Regions from separate parts of the Homo sapiens genome. Here region 2 is linked to region 1. Evidence: fine-mapped expression QTL. Tissue or cell type: T cells. Region 1 holds a variant in brackets; the other region holds the start of a gene. All regions are shown on one strand. Distances are between the middles of the regions.

Evidence for each region. PIP is the estimated chance that this variant, and not a neighbour inherited with it, causes the effect.
Region 2: it holds the start of WWC1, and the variant in region 1 is fine-mapped to the expression of WWC1 in T cells (TOPMed, PIP above 0.99). The same link has a PIP of 0.9 or more in blood mononuclear cells.

Annotation. Positions count from the first base shown.
Region 1 is chr5:168,373,090-168,381,194 of GRCh38, reverse strand. All of the region lies in intron 2 of WWC1 (WW and C2 domain containing 1), which reads right to left. Among named protein-coding and RNA genes, the nearest start is that of WWC1, 85 kb to the right of the region's middle. The variant TG/G (reference allele first, on the strand shown) is at 4,503.
Region 2 is chr5:168,287,125-168,295,229 of GRCh38, reverse strand. It overlaps WWC1 (WW and C2 domain containing 1), which reads right to left and starts at 3,585. Exons shown (of 23, transcript NM_015238.3): 1 at 2,959-3,585. The coding sequence starts at 3,077. RefSeq lists silencers at 2,773-3,192, 3,293-3,812 and an enhancer at 4,957-5,036.

The DNA of each region.
Region 1 (8,105 bases):
TGTGGCTCATGGTCTCTTTTGTAAACCAATAAGAATAGATGGGTGCACGAACAGACAAAAACAACACACAAACTCACACCAGAACTGGTTCTCAAACTGGTTGCACACTGGAATCACCCGAGAGATTTCCACTGAATTGATCTACAGTGTGAAGTGGGCATCAATTTGTTACATTTCTGAGAGTATTTCCTTTACCCCAATGATCCCCTGGACGCTCCCAGGCAATTTCCTCTACTCACCCCCTCTCCCAGTTTGCCTGTTTTAGAACTTCACATGCATGGACTCACACAGTTATTTGCTCTTAGGGCCTTGGTTCTTTCACTAAGCAGAAGGTTTTTGAGACTCATTCCTATTGCTGTATCTGTTGTACATTTCTTATTATTGCTGAATAATATTCTATTGTATGAATACATCACATTGTCTTTGTGATAAATTGTTAGTTTGCTTCCAGTTAGGGATTATTATGATGAATACTCTAAGTCTTCGTGTGGGCATGTTTTCACTTCTCTTGGACAAAAATACCAGGGGTAGAATTGCTGGATTATACTTCGCAAGTATATGTCGAATTTCATAAGAAACTGGCAAACTTTTCCAAACTGGTTGTACCATTTTACATTCTCACCAGCAGTGTATCAGAATTCTAGTTCTTCCACATCCTTGCTAGCAGTTGGTATTGTTATTTTTTTCCTCATTTTAGTCATTATAGTGGGTATGTAATGATACCTCGTTGGAATTTTATTTTTTTATTTTTTTGAGATGGGGGTCTCACTATGCTGTCCAGGCTGGTCTTCAACTCCTGGGCTAAAGTGATCCTCCAGCCTCAGGCTCCCAAGTAGCTGGGACTACTTGGCATGTACCACCATGCCCCAGCTGATTCTGTATTTTTATTTTTGTAGAGATGAGGTCTCACTGTGTTGCCCTGTGCTGCCTTATGTTTTGCTATGGCTGGTCGTGAACTCCCGGGCTCAAGTGACCCTCCACCTCAGCACCCTGAAGTGCTGGGATTACAGGCATGAGCGACTGTGCCAGCTGCTTCTTACTGTTAAGTTGTAGGACGTCTTTACATACTTGGAATATGGTTCTTTGTTAGAGATATGTATTGCAATATTGTCTCCTTATCTGTGGCTTGTCTTTTCAGTTTCTTAATAATGTCTTTTGAGGAACAAAGATTTTAATTTGATGAAACCAAATTTATTAATTTTTCTTTTCTGGTTAGTGCTTTTTATGACTTGTCCAAAAAAATCTTTGCCTATCATAAAATCTTGCAGATTTTCTCCTATGTTTTCTTCTAGATGTTTTATAATTTTAGCTTTTATGTTTAGGTCTATGATCTATTTTGAGTTTAGTTTTACACATGGTGTGAGGCAAAGGTAGAAGTGGTGGCCTATTTTTTTTCCATATGGATACCAGTTGTACCAACAACTGTTGAAAAGATTATCCTTCAAGGGCATTGGGCCTTTTAAAAGTTCTTTACATGGTTCTAAAGAGCTGTGTTGGCTGGATGCAGTGGCTCATGCCTGTAATACCAGCACTTTGGGAGGCCGAGGCAGGTGGATCACTTGAGGTCAGGAGTTCAAGACCAGCCTGACCAACATGGCGAAACCCCATCTCTATTAAAAATACAAAAATTAGCTGGGTGTGGTGGTGTATGCCTGTAATCCCAGCTACTCAGGAGACTGAGGCAGGAGAATCGCTTGAACCCAGGAGGCAGAGGTTGCAGTGAGCCAAGATCGCGCCATTGCACTCCAGCCTGGGTGACAAGAGTGAAACTCCGTCTCAAAAAAATAAAAAAAAGAGTTGTGTTAATGCCGTTAGTTCTGAACTGTCACACCCTGAGGGGGTCCTCCGACAGCCCAGCCCCTTCTGCTGACACTACCCTTCCTCAAGTCCATCTTACCAAAATAGGTAACTTTGTAACTGGCAGGCCCTTTGAGATCATCTTGGCCACTACTACATTTTAGTTCTTGTTTTAATTAAAAGTATACATAGATATAGCTTAATAATTCAGTGCACTATAAAATTTCCTACATAAAACATCTCCCTCATATCCCTCTTTCCAAAAGCAGCTACTTTCCAAACTTGTATCTGCTCTAGTGCAGGCATCATTGAGAACCACTTCTCCACTTTCTTCTGCTCCATGCTCTAAACCTCTCCCTACAAACACACGCCATACACATTCTCCACACAGCACACATGGCAGCACACTCATGAGTTCTCCATACACCCATCCCTTCCTACACTTGCCACACACCTGTTTTCTCCACACTGCATACACACCCACGCCGCTAACAATACTGCATTTTCCAAGGGCCTTAGCAACAACAAAAGCAATTCTCTTAAAAACATCTGGAGAATATTCAACCTTGTTACTATGCAAAGGAGTGCAAATTCAAAACAATGAAGTAAGAGTTTAAACCTATGATATATGTATCAAAAGTCAAAAGAAACGAACATAGCCCCATACTGATGAAGGTCTGAGGAAAACAGTACCCTCATGTCTTGTGGCAATACAAGCTGATATAATCTTTTGGAAATATTCACCAATCTAGCAATATATACTAAAAGCTCCCAAGGTATTTATAACTTTGACTTCAAAATCCTATACTTGGAAATGAATTTTCAGGAAATTATCACAAAGAAAGTAACATACACAAAGAGTCTTCCCTGAGTGCTATTTAAAATAATAAATGAAAATAAACCAAAAGGTTGGCAATAGGAAGCATTATGGTACTTCCATTATGTGTTTTATTTTTCCCTTTTTAAAAAATTTAACTTTTAAATTTTAGATTCAGGGGGTACCTGTGCATGTTTGTTACATGGATGTATTGCATGATGCTGAGGTTTGGGGTATACTGTGCATAGTACCTAATAGGTAGTTTTTCAACCTTTGCCCCCATCTCCCTACCCTCTCTAGTAGCCCCTAGTGCCTATTGCTGCCATCTTTTATGTCGATAAGTACCCATTGTTTAGCTCCCACTCTCAAAAAAATAAAGTGAGAACAAGTGGTATTTGAGTGTTTGTCCTTGTATTAATTTGCTTAGAATAATGGCCTCCAACTGCATCCATGTTGCAGCAAAGGACATGATTTTTTCTTTTTAATGACTGTATAGTATTCCATGGTGTATATGTACCACATCTGCTTTATTCAATCCACTGCTGATGGGCACTAAGGTTGATGCCATGTCTTTGATATTAGGAATAGTACTGTGATGAACATATGAGTGCATGTGTCTTTTTGGTAGAGTGATATCTTTCCTTTTGGATATATACCTAGTAATAGGACTGCTGGGTTGAATGGTAGTTCTAAGTTCTTTGAAAAATCTCCAAACTGCTTTCCACAGTGGCTGAACTAATTTACATTCCCACTGACAGCATATAAGTGTTCTCTTTTCTCCACATCCTCACCAGCATCTGTTGTTTTTTGACTCTTTAATAACAGCCATTCTGACTGGTGTGAGATGGTATCTCGCTGTGGTTTTGATTTGCATTTCTCTGATGATCACGGATGTGGAGCATTTTTTCATATGTTTGTTAGCCTCTTTTATGTCTTCTTTTGAGAAGTGTCTGTTTATTGTTTTGCTCACTTTCTAATGGGGTTATTTGTTTTTTGCTTGTTGAATTTTTTAAGTTCCTTATAGATTCTGGATATTAGACCTTTACTGGATGCATAGTTTACAAATATTTTCTCCCACTCCATAGGTTTTCTGTTTACTCTGTTGATAGCTTCTTTTGCTGTGCAGAAGCTCTTTAGTTTAATTAGGTCCCATTTGTCAATTTTAGTTTTTGTTGCAATTGCTTTTGAGGACTTACTCATAAATTCTTTCTCAAGGCCAATGTACAGAATGGTGTTTTCTAGGTTCTCTTCTAGGCCTCTTATAGTTTGAGGTCTTACATTTAAATCTTTAATCCATTTTGAGTTAACTTTTGTATATGGTAAAAGGTAGGGGTCCAGTTTTATTCTTTTGCATATGGCTCGCCAGCTATCCCAACACCATTTATTGAACAGGAAGTCCTTTCCCCACTGCATATTTTTGTCGACTTAGTTGAAGATCAAATAGCTGTAGGTGTGCGGCTTTATTCTAAATTCTCTATTCTGTTCCATTGATCTACGTGCCTGCTTTTGTACTAGTATCATGCTGTTTTGGATACTGCAGCCTTATAGTATAGTTTGAAGTTGGATAATATGATGCCTCTGGCTTTGTTCTTTTTGCTTAGATTTGCTTTGGCCGTTTGGACTCTTTTCTGGCTCGAAATGAATTTAGAATAGTTTTTTCTAATTCTGTGAAAAATGATGCTGGTAGTTTGATATGAATAGCACTCAATCTGCAGATTGCTTTATGCAGTATGGCCATTTAAACAATATTGATTCTTCCAATCCATGAGCACGGAACGTTTTTCCATTTGTTTGTGTCACCTGTGATTTCTTTCAGCAGTGTTTAGTAGTTCTCCTTGTATATATCTTTCACCTCCTTGGCTAGATGTATTCCTAGGTATTTTTTTTT[TG/G]TGTGTGGCTACTGTAAATGGGATTGCGTTCTTGATTTGGTTCTCAGTTTGAACATTATTGGTTTACAGAAATGCTATTGATTTTTTTACATTTATTTTGTATCCTGAAACTTTGCTGAAATCATTTATCAGTTCTAGAAGTCTTTTGGCAGAATCTTTAGGGTTGTCTAGGTATAGAATCAAATCATCAGCGAAGAGAGATACTTTGACTTCTTCTTTTCCTATTTGGGTATCTTCTATTTCTTTCTCTTGCCTTGATTGCTCTGGCTAGGACTTCCTCCATTATGTGTTAAAATGTATTGACACATCCTTTTGATGTATTAAAAATGACAAATATGGGCCAGGCACAGCAGCTCACGCCTGTAATCCCAGCACTTTGGGAGGCCCAGGCAGGAGGATCACCTGCGGTCAGGAGTTTGAAACCAGCCTGGCCAACATGGTGAAACCCCATCTCTACTAAAAATACAAAAATTAGCTAGGCATGATGGCACATGCCTGTAATTCCAGCTATTCAGGAGGCTGAGGCAGGAGAATTGTTTGAACTCGGGAGGCGGAGGTTGCAGTGAGCCAAGATCACATCACTGCACTACAGCCTGGGGACAGAGCAAGACTCTGTCTAGAAGAAAAAAAAAAAAGACAAATATGAAGATTATATAGCATCCCTTAGATATCTATGATATAGTATGAAAAGAAAACAGACATAAAATTTGATCACTGATTAAAACCATCTAATCATGGTATGTGTAGATAATCGGGGATACTGAATACTGACATGAAATAGTAAAAATGGCTTATGTTTTAGAAACAGTTGTCTGTAGGCTGGGCATGGTGGCTCACGTCTGTATTCCCAGCACTTTGGGAGGCCAAGGTGGGCAGATCACCTGAGGTTAGGAGTTTGAGACCAGCCTGGCCAACAAGGTGAAACCCTGTCTCCACTAAAATTACAAAAATGAGCTGGGCGTGGTGGCGGGCACCTGCAATCCCAGCTACTTGGGAGGCTGAGGCAGGAGAATTGCTTGAACCCGGAAGGTGGAGGTTGCAGTGAGACAAGATCTGCCACTGTACTCCAGCCTGGGCGACAGAGCGAGACTTCGTCTAAAAAAAAAGAAGAAAAGAAAAGAAAAAAACAAAAAAAAAGAAAGAGTTGTCTGCATTGCTGCTTCCAATTCCTCCCCTGTTTTCTTTTAGACTCACTCTAGTCAGGCTTTTGCTCCCAGTCCTCGTCCAAAGCTGCCCTCCAAAGTCAGGTCACCCAGGTTGCTAAATCTATTGGTTTATCCTTGGTCCTCTTTGTATTTGCCCTGTCAGAAGCCTTCGACACTGTCGGCAATTCTCTGCTTGATATGTTTCCTTCACGTGGCTTCCAACACACTCGGTTTCCCTCCCTCCTTTCTGATCACTCTTTCTCAGAATCATTGCTGCTTTTCCTCTTCTTGCCACCCTCTGTTGTCTGGAGACCCATGACTTATTCCTTGGTCCTCTTCTCTGTTTCATTCCCAACCAACTTAGTGTCTTTACATACTAGCTATATGCCAGCAACTCTCAAATACTTATCTTCAGCCCAGACCTCTCTCCTAAACTCCAGGTTTATATATCAAACTGTCAAGCCACATGTCCTCTCAGATAGGTAATAGACATGTAAGTCTTGACATGTCCAAATGAACTCCTGCTCTTCCTTCCTAAGTCTACTCCCCCTGCAGTTTTCTCCACTTGGTTGATAGCAACTCCATCCTTCTAGTTGCTCAGCTCCAGAAGTTATTCTTTCCTTTTTCTTTCATACTTTACATGCAATCTATCGGGAAATCCTGCTGTCTCTACCTAGAGAATACCTCCAGCATCTGGCCAATCTTCACCCTGACCATTGCTACAGCCCAGGTCTAGGGCGCCTGGACTGTGGCATTTGTCGCTCACAAGTCTCCTTGCCTCCACCCTTGCCCTAATAAGGTGTATTCTCAGCATGGCAGTCAGACTGGTCCTTTTAAGACATAAGTCAGATCATGTTACTCATCTGTTTAAAACTCTCCAATGGCTCACTCCCATCTCACACAGCGGAAGAGCTAGGCCTCTGGGGCAGACCACTGCCTGACCTCTACTCTGCTGCACTCTGTCCTGATGTCCTTCTCCCCTCTCCTCACTCATTATGTTATATGCACACTTGCCTCTTTGCTATCCCTTGACCGCTAAATGTGATCACACCTTGGAGTTCTTCTTCTATCTATGCTTTCTATTTGAAATGCTCTCTCACCTCCTTCAAGTCTTAGCTCAAATCTCATTGTCTCAACAAGATCTTCTTCCCGGAAGACCACATCATATTTAATGGTACTCTTGGTCACCATTACCACGGCCCTTTCTTCGCCACCCCCAAATACACCTCAGCTCCCGACTTTGCTCCTTTTTTCTGTGTACTGAACATTCTCTAACATACTACATAATCTACTTATTTATTTTTTGTCTCTCCTGCCAAAATGAAATTTCTATAAGAGCAAGGATCTTTGCCATTTTGTACTCCCATGTATCGCAAGCTCCCAGAAGAGTTGGCCAATAAACATTTGCTAAATGAATGAATGCTCGATGGTGAATGTATGAGCGAATTGTTGTTTGATTATATTGTGCTATACCTCTCTCTCTTTTTTTTTTTTTTTTTTTGGTACAGAATCTCGCTCTGTTGCCCAGGCTGGAGTGCAGTGGCGGGATCTCGGCTCACTGCAAGCTCCGCTTCCAGGGTTCATGCCATTCTCCTGCCTCAGCCTCCTGAGCAGCTGGGATTACAGATGCCCGCCACCACGCCCAGCTAATTTTTTGTATTTTTAATAGAGATGGGGTTTCACTCTGTTAGCCAGAATGGTCTCGACCTCCTGACCTCGTGATCCGCCCACCTCGGCCTCCCAAAGTGCTGGGATTACAGGCGTGAGCCACTGCGCCCAGCACACCCCCACCTTTTTTTTTTTTTTTTTTTTTTTTTTTTTTTTTTTAAGAGACAAGGCCTTGCTATGTTGCCCAGACTAGCCTTGAACTCCTGGGTTCAAATGATCTTCCTGCCTCAGCCTCCCAAGTACCTGGGACTATAGACACATGCAAACATGCCCGATATTGTGTCTATAACTCTTAAGAGAATTTCAGTCCATGAACAATGCACACACAGAACTGGTCCAAGTGCATGGCTCTGAATGCCTGGGCCTTGGTGCTCATATTCCTACTATATTGCTATCAATGGCTCCATCTACTGAGGTGGTCCCCCACATCCAACCAGACCACCTCAAACCAAGAGGAAACCAGTAGCCTGACAGCTTGTGAAACTACCAGATAGAATTCTTCCTGCTATGGCCCCATTTAATCACCCCCATACACCCCATTTCTGCCTTCATTCCCTCAAGAATAAACTCTGCCACGGCCTGCTACTACTTTCTTCCATTTTTCCAACAGCTCCCAGAAGCACCTTGAAATCCCACTCCCACCATGAGATTTTAATGAGGGGGATGCACTCAGCAATTAGAAACAGGAAAAGACTGATTAGGTCTCCTGCACATCAGTGTTTAACCCAGCATCCCATGCAGCCCTCCAAGCATTAACCTCATTCCCCATACACACTCAATTAGGCATAT
Region 2 (8,105 bases), 86 kb after region 1:
GACCATCTAACCAACCCACTTCTCAAGCACTCAAACCTCAGAGAGGTCAAGTGATTTGCCCAAGGCCACACAGACAGAACTAAAAGGCAAAAATGGGGTATGCCGGAGGGAAATTCCAGAAAACCACAAGTGGCTATCCTCCAATTAGCACTTTTCCAAAACATACAAAGCTGGACCACAATAGTGACCCCCAGAGTTGACATGAGACCCCCTCAGGACCCCAAGTTCAGGGGCCCAATACCACCCCAGTCCAGGTGGGATGACAAGGAGGTACAGAGATGAAGTTTATAAACCAGTGACCCAAGGCCAAGCGTGGTGGCTCACGCCTGTAATCCTAGCACTTTGGGAGGCTGAGGTGGGCGGATTGCCTGAGCTCAGGAGTTCAAGACTAGCCTGGGCAACACAGTGAAACCCCATCTCTACTAAAATACAAAAAATTGGCTGGATGTGGTGGCGTGCACCTGTAGTCCCAGCTACTCGGGAGGTTGAGGCAGGAGAATCGCTTGAACCCAGGAGGCAGACTTGCAGTGAGCCAAGATCGCACCACTGGACTCCAGCCTGGGCGACAGAGCGAGACTCTGTCTCCAAAAAACAAAAACAAATAAACAAAAAAACCAAAAGCAAACAAAAAAACCAATGACACAAGATGAAGAAGGTGAGCTGCTCACCTAAGTGCCACTATGTTTCTGCCGCCTCTCCATGGCTTGCCAATCTGCTTAAAAACAAAGGCTGGGCAGGTGAGGTGCTGTGGCCTTAGGCTGGCCACAGTACCTAGCTAAAATATACTAACCCTGGTTTTTTGTTTTTTTTGTTTGCCTATCTTTTTTGTTTCCCCTGTATGACAATAGATATAACTAGTTTCCCATTTGTGAAAATGGTACACATATTTTTAAAGTGAGTTGATCTAAAGTCAAGGAGTAAGTAAGCAATAGCACAGGTGGATATAGCAAAAAAAAATCATGGAGGTGGTCCATGTAACACTAAAATTTGGGAGATTGTGCTCCAGCCAATCAGTTCTTCATAGAAGCTACTTACTTACCCTTTTCCAAGGGTAAAGAATTACTGTTGAGAGGGGCCTCCTATTGCTGTATTAGAAGTCCCCAGATGCATGATTATCAGTGTTGGCAGGGGCGGTCCTTTCCCTCCAACAGGACGTCCACCTGCTAACAGCACACAGGCCTCCGTAAACTACAGGGACCTAAATTGGGGCAGGTCACATATGTTTGAACTTGTGTCTGTTCTGAGAAAAGGACAAGAGAAAAGGTGCTGCCAAGTTCACCAACACAGTAGCAGAGCTGGCAACTGACCCGAGTAAGGGTGGGGAAGCAGTGTGTCAGGGTGACAAGTTTGCAGGTTAGAACTTCAGAGCTGGTGAAGAACTGGTACGCAGAATGGCAGAAAAATCAAAATACTTGAGCAAATCACACCTCTGGGCTTCAAATTTTCTCTTATGTTTCAAATGGGAGTTGGGCGCTGATGTACGTCCCTTCCAAGTTTTAAGCATCCCAATATTCCCTTCCAAGCAAACTTTTTAAATTCAGGGAAATGGTGGGCTCCCCCATCTGACAAACAGGGAAACTGAGGCTCAGAGGTTGAAGCAGCTTGCCTAAGAGATGCTCTCTAGCACTAAATATTTACCTTCCAGATTACATTCATGAGACATTCAGCATGGTGCTGAGTGTAGAGGAGGCATCCAGGAAGCGCTGAATGAACGAATGAATGAATGAATGAAAGTAAGTGCTCCCAGAAACTACCGAGAATCTCAACTCTCATTTTCTTTCCGCTTATATTCTTTTTTTGACCCACATCTTGCTACATACACTTCTGGGACACCTCCACCCCCACCACACAAGATGAAGAGTCCAAGAAATTCACCTTGGTTGCTTTACAGGGACCTGACCCCCAAGGTCACAGACAAGGTTTAAAGTCCGCATTCCCCAAGACACTCTGCCCACAGACCGTGTCAACAACATCGTGGTCCGGGGACTCTAGGACATACATGGAGAGGGTGAATGTATGTGTGTGTGTGCAGCATGTGAGCAAAGAAATGCCAAACAACCAGGAGAAAGTCTGGAGAGGTAAGAGCCACACCGAGCTATCTCAGGCTCCATCTGCCTCTGCACATTATCTCAACCTACAGCGGCCTGGTACCCACCAAGGTCAGGTCCCGCTGGTGCAGGGCTGAGGAGCCTCGCCGCCCCCTTCCCCGATCAGGGAAGAAAGAGAGGAGAAAGAGGCGAGGGGCAAGGCTTTCCGGGAGGCCTCTCACCTCCATCTCCATCCTAACAGCTTCCAAGTTGCTGCCAGATTCCTGGATAACCAGTCTCCCTCATCTGCCCTCCCCCGCTTCTTCACTTCCTCCCCACCCTCGGGTTCCAGGGCCCCCTGGCTGCCCCTGTGCTGTTCTCAGCAGCTTCCAAGGCACCTGTCAAAAAGCACACCTCAGGTTGCCTTCCTCTGCGCCGAGTGCCCTCTCTCCAGTGGTCTCCCACGGAATCCTGGGGTCTTGACCACCCCCTCTAACCGGACACTTCCCCATCCCCATCCGCCCACCCCCCACGCTGGGTGGAAGCCTCCCCGGGAAGACCCGGCTTCACCCGGCTAGGTCGCTCCCCCAACCCCCGCCCCCGCCCGACCTCTCTTCCTAAAGGGGGCGGGCGGGGCTAGAGCTTAAGGTCAAAACTCCGGGCAGGTGCCGGCTGGGGCCTAAGTCCTCCAACTGGGGATGGCGGTGGGGCAGCCTGGGCCAGCTCCCCGGCAGGCGCCTCCTCTCGGTGGCCCACTGAGGCGGGAGCAGCGCTCCAGAAGGTTGGGGGGAGCAGGGGGTGGCGAACTGAAGAGAGCTCAAGAGGCACGCAGAGCTCCCCTGCCCCCTCCCAGTCCCGGCCGGCGGCTCCAGGGGCAGGTGGGGGCCCAGGCGGGGGTGTGGGGGCACGGAGGAGGGTTCCAGGGTCCTACCTGTCCCGCGGGTCGATCCAGCTGGTGGTGCGGTTCGTGTGGTCTATGTAGTAGACCTTGCCGTCGAAGTCGCGCGCCTCCTCCCAGCCCTCCGGCAGGGGCAGCTCCGGCCGGGGCATCTTCCCAAGCGCTGCCGGCGCTCCCCCATGCAGCTCCCGGCCGCAGCGGGGGCTCAGCGGCTCCAGCCGGCCGCTCTTAGCCCGGGCGGCCGCCGAGGCACCATGATCCGGGGGGTGGCGCCCGCAGATGGGGGGCCCTAGTAGGGGCCGGCCGGGGTGGCGCCGCTGTCCATGCGGCCCTGCAGCCCCGACCCGGCGCCGCCCGCTCCTCCCGCCGCCGGCCTCTCACGCTGCCATGTGCGTCCGCAGCGGCGCGGTGCGAGCCCGGGTGCGCGCCCAGCCGGCCGGGCAGAGCGAGCCGAGCGCCGCCGCCGCCGCCGTCTGCCCTCCTCCGCCGCGCGGCGCGCTGCGCCCTCCACGCCGCCGCTGCCGCTGCCGCCTCCCTCCTCCCTGCAGCCGGGTGCCGTCCCTCCTCTCCGCTCCACCGCTCTGAGCTCGCCGGGTTTGTGACTTCTGCCTCCGCCAGGTGCGGCTCGGGCGGTGCAGGTAACCGCGCTGCCCCGGAAACGGGAGGCGGAGCGCCGGGCGCCTGGGTTCCCGGGTCCCCTCCCCGCGCGCAGCGCCTCGAGGGCGGGTCCTAGGGCCCGAGACGCGCCCCCTCGTGGGACAGTCCCAGCCGCCGGCCACCCTTACGCTGCCCCTGCCAGGGGAAGGAGAGACCGCCCCTCACCTGCGTCCCAGACCTAGGGGGCTGGGCCAAAAACCGCTCTGCCTGTACTTAAAACGCTCCTGTCTCTCTCCACCCGGAGTAGCCAGGCTCTCGGCACAGGTGGCCCCAAATCTTAAAAACTCCCTGCTTTTCTGTGGTGTAGAATCAGGAGTCAGGCAAGAAGTGGTTAAATGGAAACATTCTTGCGAATTGGGAAACATAAGTTTTCCAGGATCTCTGGTCCCTTCCCCCAACACAGGCACCATCTGTCTCCTTCTATTCAACTCTCCCTACGACGTTTCGCCCACCCTCCACCCTTCCCCACCATTTGGAAATGTAGCTGGCTCCCCTCAGGGTCCCTAAAATTAGGAGCGCTGTGGATCCGCTTTCCTGGGAGGACTTCCAGAGGGTGTCAGGGAAAACACTTTGTAAAAGTAATAGTAATGCCATTGTTATTGTTAGCTAAATTGAGGACTTACTTGTGACAGGCTGTGGCTAGCAGCTTCACAGGCTTTCTTTCCTGTGATACTTTGAGGTAGGTGTGTTATGGATTTGGGAGAAGTGGGGCTATGAAAAAGAAGAAAGTAAGCAAAGCAAAATTCCATCTTGAAAAATGTTCAAGAGAATAAAACAATCAGAGACACAATGTTTCTTGAGAAATTAAAAATGTAGAATTAGTGGGTGCGGTGGCTCACGCCTGTAATCCCAGCACTTTGGGAGGGTGAGGCAGACAGATTACCTGAGGTCAGGATTTCAGACCAGCCTGGCCAACATAGTGAACCCCATCTCTACTAAAAAATAATAATAATAAATTAGCTGGGCGTGGTGGTGCACGCCCGTAGTCCCAGCTACTCGGGAGGCTGAGGCATGAGAATCACTTCAACCTGGGAGGTGGAGGTTGCAGTGAGCCAAGATCGCACCACTGCACTCCAGCCTGGGCAACAAAGCGAGACTCTGTCTCAAATAAATAAATAAATAAATTTAAAATGTAGCATTAAATACAAAAAGCAAGCTAGCATGATTGAGTGAATGATCAACTGGCTGTTCACTTCCCCATCTCCTCTTACATCTGTGTACTGAGTGGGAATTTAACCCTTTTTTGCCCTCGGCATATGGCAGGAAGCTGGACTGGTCGAATGAAGCCCAGTTGGGTGTCTTCTCTTGCCTGAGCCCCACGGTCTTCCAGAAGAACCAGCACCCTGTGCTGTATGGACCAGGGTGTTGCTGAGCCAGAGAGGGAATCATGTTTGTGGTCTCATCTCCTCTTGACAGAAAAGACCCACCAGAGTGAGCCTCGCCTCCAAATGCCTTCTTCATAGTTAATTCCTTCCCTGAGGCCAGGCCTCGGGGCTCAGTGCTTGGCCCTCCTTCATTCCATAAATACCAGGCACCAGAGTCCAGGGACACCAGCCTCAGACTGGCCCTCAACACCCAAAAGTTGGAATTCCCCATTCCTTTATGGGGGAATTCCCACAGCCCTCTACACTTCCTCTGTTTGGGTCAAGCCTTTACTACATAAAAACCCACTATTGATTAGAGCAGTAGCCCCAAAGCAAAGCCAACCTGGTGCTAGGTTCTTTGAATACATGATCTCAATCTTCATAACAACCCTCTGGCATAGGAAAGTCTATTTATTATACCCATTTTACAGATGAGGCTCCAAGATGCTTTGTTGTTGGCCTGGGATACAGAGCTCATAAGACAGACTAGGTCTGACTCTAGTGCAGTGTTCTCAGTTATTAACCTATACTTTCTTTTTTTCTTTTTTTGAGATGGAGTCTCCCCCCATCCCCCAGGCTGGAGTGCAGTGGCATGATCTCGGCTCACTACAACCTCTGCCTCCCAGATTCAAGCAATTCTCCTGCCTCAGCTTCCAGAGTAGCTGGGATTACAGGCCTGCGCCACCACGCCCAGCTAATTTTTGTATTTTTCAGTAGAGCTGGAGTTTCACCATATTGGCCAGGCTGGTCTCGAACTCCTGACCTCAGGTGATCCGCCCACCTCAGCCTCCCAAAGTGCTGGGCTTACAGACATGAGCCACCTTGCCTGGCTGACTTTCTTTCTTTCTTTCTTTTTATTTTTGAGACGGAGTCTCGCTCTGTCACCCAGATTGGAGACTTTCTTTCTTTTTTAAATCACTCTGCAGCCTCAGAACTTCCCCATGGTTGGGATGTGGAACATGACTGATACTGACAAATGTTCATCTCTGTTGATGTTTGCTTCATAGTTTTTTGGTTGAGAAGCAAGAGCTCTAGAATCAGGCTGTTTGGGTCCCAAGCCCACCCGGTTTTCTAGCTGTGTGACCTTGGGCAGCTTGCTTCACTGAAGTCTCAGTCTTTGATTTGAAAAAAAATCACATAACAATATGGACTCCTTTGGGCTTGTGGTTAGGGCAAAGCAGGAGGAGAAATGTGAGGGCTTGGCACTCAGCAGCACGCCTTCATCTCAGGGGCTGTGGTGCGGTGCATTCGGAGCACCGTGCCTGGCAGCAGACACACCTCTATGAAATGTGGACCATTTGAAGTATTTTCTGTTCAAAACACAAATCCACGTCCTTTCCCCTTCTGAAAATTATGCCTGCTTGCTTGCAACAGTCCTCCTAATTGCTGATTTTTTTTTTTTTGGCCTTATTTTTCAACCAAGCCTTTTTACTGGTTGGCATTGATTGTGAAGAGAAAACACCTTTTAGACTGCCAAGTCCCACTTTCGTTTTAGTCCAGCCACCCAAACCCTGGCATTTTCCAAATGGCTTGCTTCTTTGGACCTTTTGACCTGGCCTGGGAAGCAAGAAAGAGAGACCAGAGCAGGAATTGACTCCTGAATTAAGGCCTAGGTCTGTTCGCTCTTTTTACCTCCCATCCACCCCCAACGAAAGAATCCCAGGTTATCTCGCAGAAGCGGCAAGCAGGGTGAGGTAATAAAACAGATGACTGCCTGCCCCATGTGATGGCGCGTGAATCATCCCGGACATTCTGCGAGGCTGAGGGCAAACGTGAAAGAGATTAAAGGTAAAACCGGCTCAGCCACATGATAGGCTGAATTGGACGTTACTCTACAGGTGACTGAACTGCAGGAATCCGAACTGAAGACAAGAAGCCCAGCCCTCTCCTGGCCACCCTCCTGGGGCTGCGTCTGGCTGCCCGCGTGTGGAGTTGAAGGAGACAGGCTTGGGCAGTGTTGGGCAGTGCAGAAGTGACCACAGGCCAAGCCTTTCTAATGACAAAGGCCACATCCCGGTGGCCCAGAGGAATCACCTGAGCCTGAGACAGGCTGTCTTGTTTTTAAAAACGATGCGCACTTGAACCCTTTTCTCCACTGCAACTGCAGGGAAGAAAGGCCGTTATCCACACGTGTTTTAGAGTGTTTCAGAGAGCCAGAGTCACATATTCCATGAAGATGGTAAAGAGGAGAAATTAAATATAAAACAAAGGAACAGATATGTTAGCAAGTCCAGTTTCCTGTTCGCATCTGCATTCTTCAGGGGAAACTGAGGCTTTGAGAACCTCTGCTGAGATTTTGCTTCCTGCTCCATGACTCTACCTCCCTACCTCATGCCGTCCCTCCCACACATCCTGGGGAATGCACAGTTATGTTCTATGATGGAGCCAATAATGTCCCCTTTCTTGAGTCATGCATTATTTGAGGTTCATAAATGTACTGTGGACTCTTTTTTTCCAATGATGGGAAAACACGTCCTAAGCCAGAGAAAATGAGGGTGGAAGAAACCTTGGTAACACGAGAGCCGAGGCAGAAGAGATGGTTTTTTATTTACCTCTCGGTCCTCCGTGCTTAATTCAGTGCTGGGAAATCAACTGAAACAAGTCTTGCACAGCCTACTCATTTTACAAACAGAGAAATGGAGTTTGTGTGAATAATGATTTACTGCCCTAGTTCCTGCTGGTTCCATTTCATAGATGAGCAAACTGAGATTCAGAGAGGCAAAGTGACTTTTCTGTAGTCATGTAGATATCAACTTAGCTGCTTCTAGTGAGTTTTTGCTTCTGGACTCCCAGTGTGGGCTTTAGAGTGCCTGTGAAGGAGAGATTTCAGGGCCATGGTCTGGTTGGGAAAGGAGGTGGGGTGGCCAGGAGACTCTCCTTAAACTCCTACTTATGTTTGGGTTGTGCGTCTATTTGGAGTGGATGGAGGAGGCCATGGAGGTTGATGAGGGCATGCTAAAACTGGTCACAGCTGAGCTGACAATGAGAGGGCAGAGTTGAGGTGGGGTTCTCAATTCTAAGAGGAGGAGATAGTGCCCTGATCCCCCATTGCCTGCCCAGTGCTGTCCACAAGACCCCCCAAGGGGATTGGTGTAGGGGATTTCACAGGCTCAGCGGTCTCTGTGGGAAGAGGGGTACTTTTCTCCCTTTGTTGCCTGT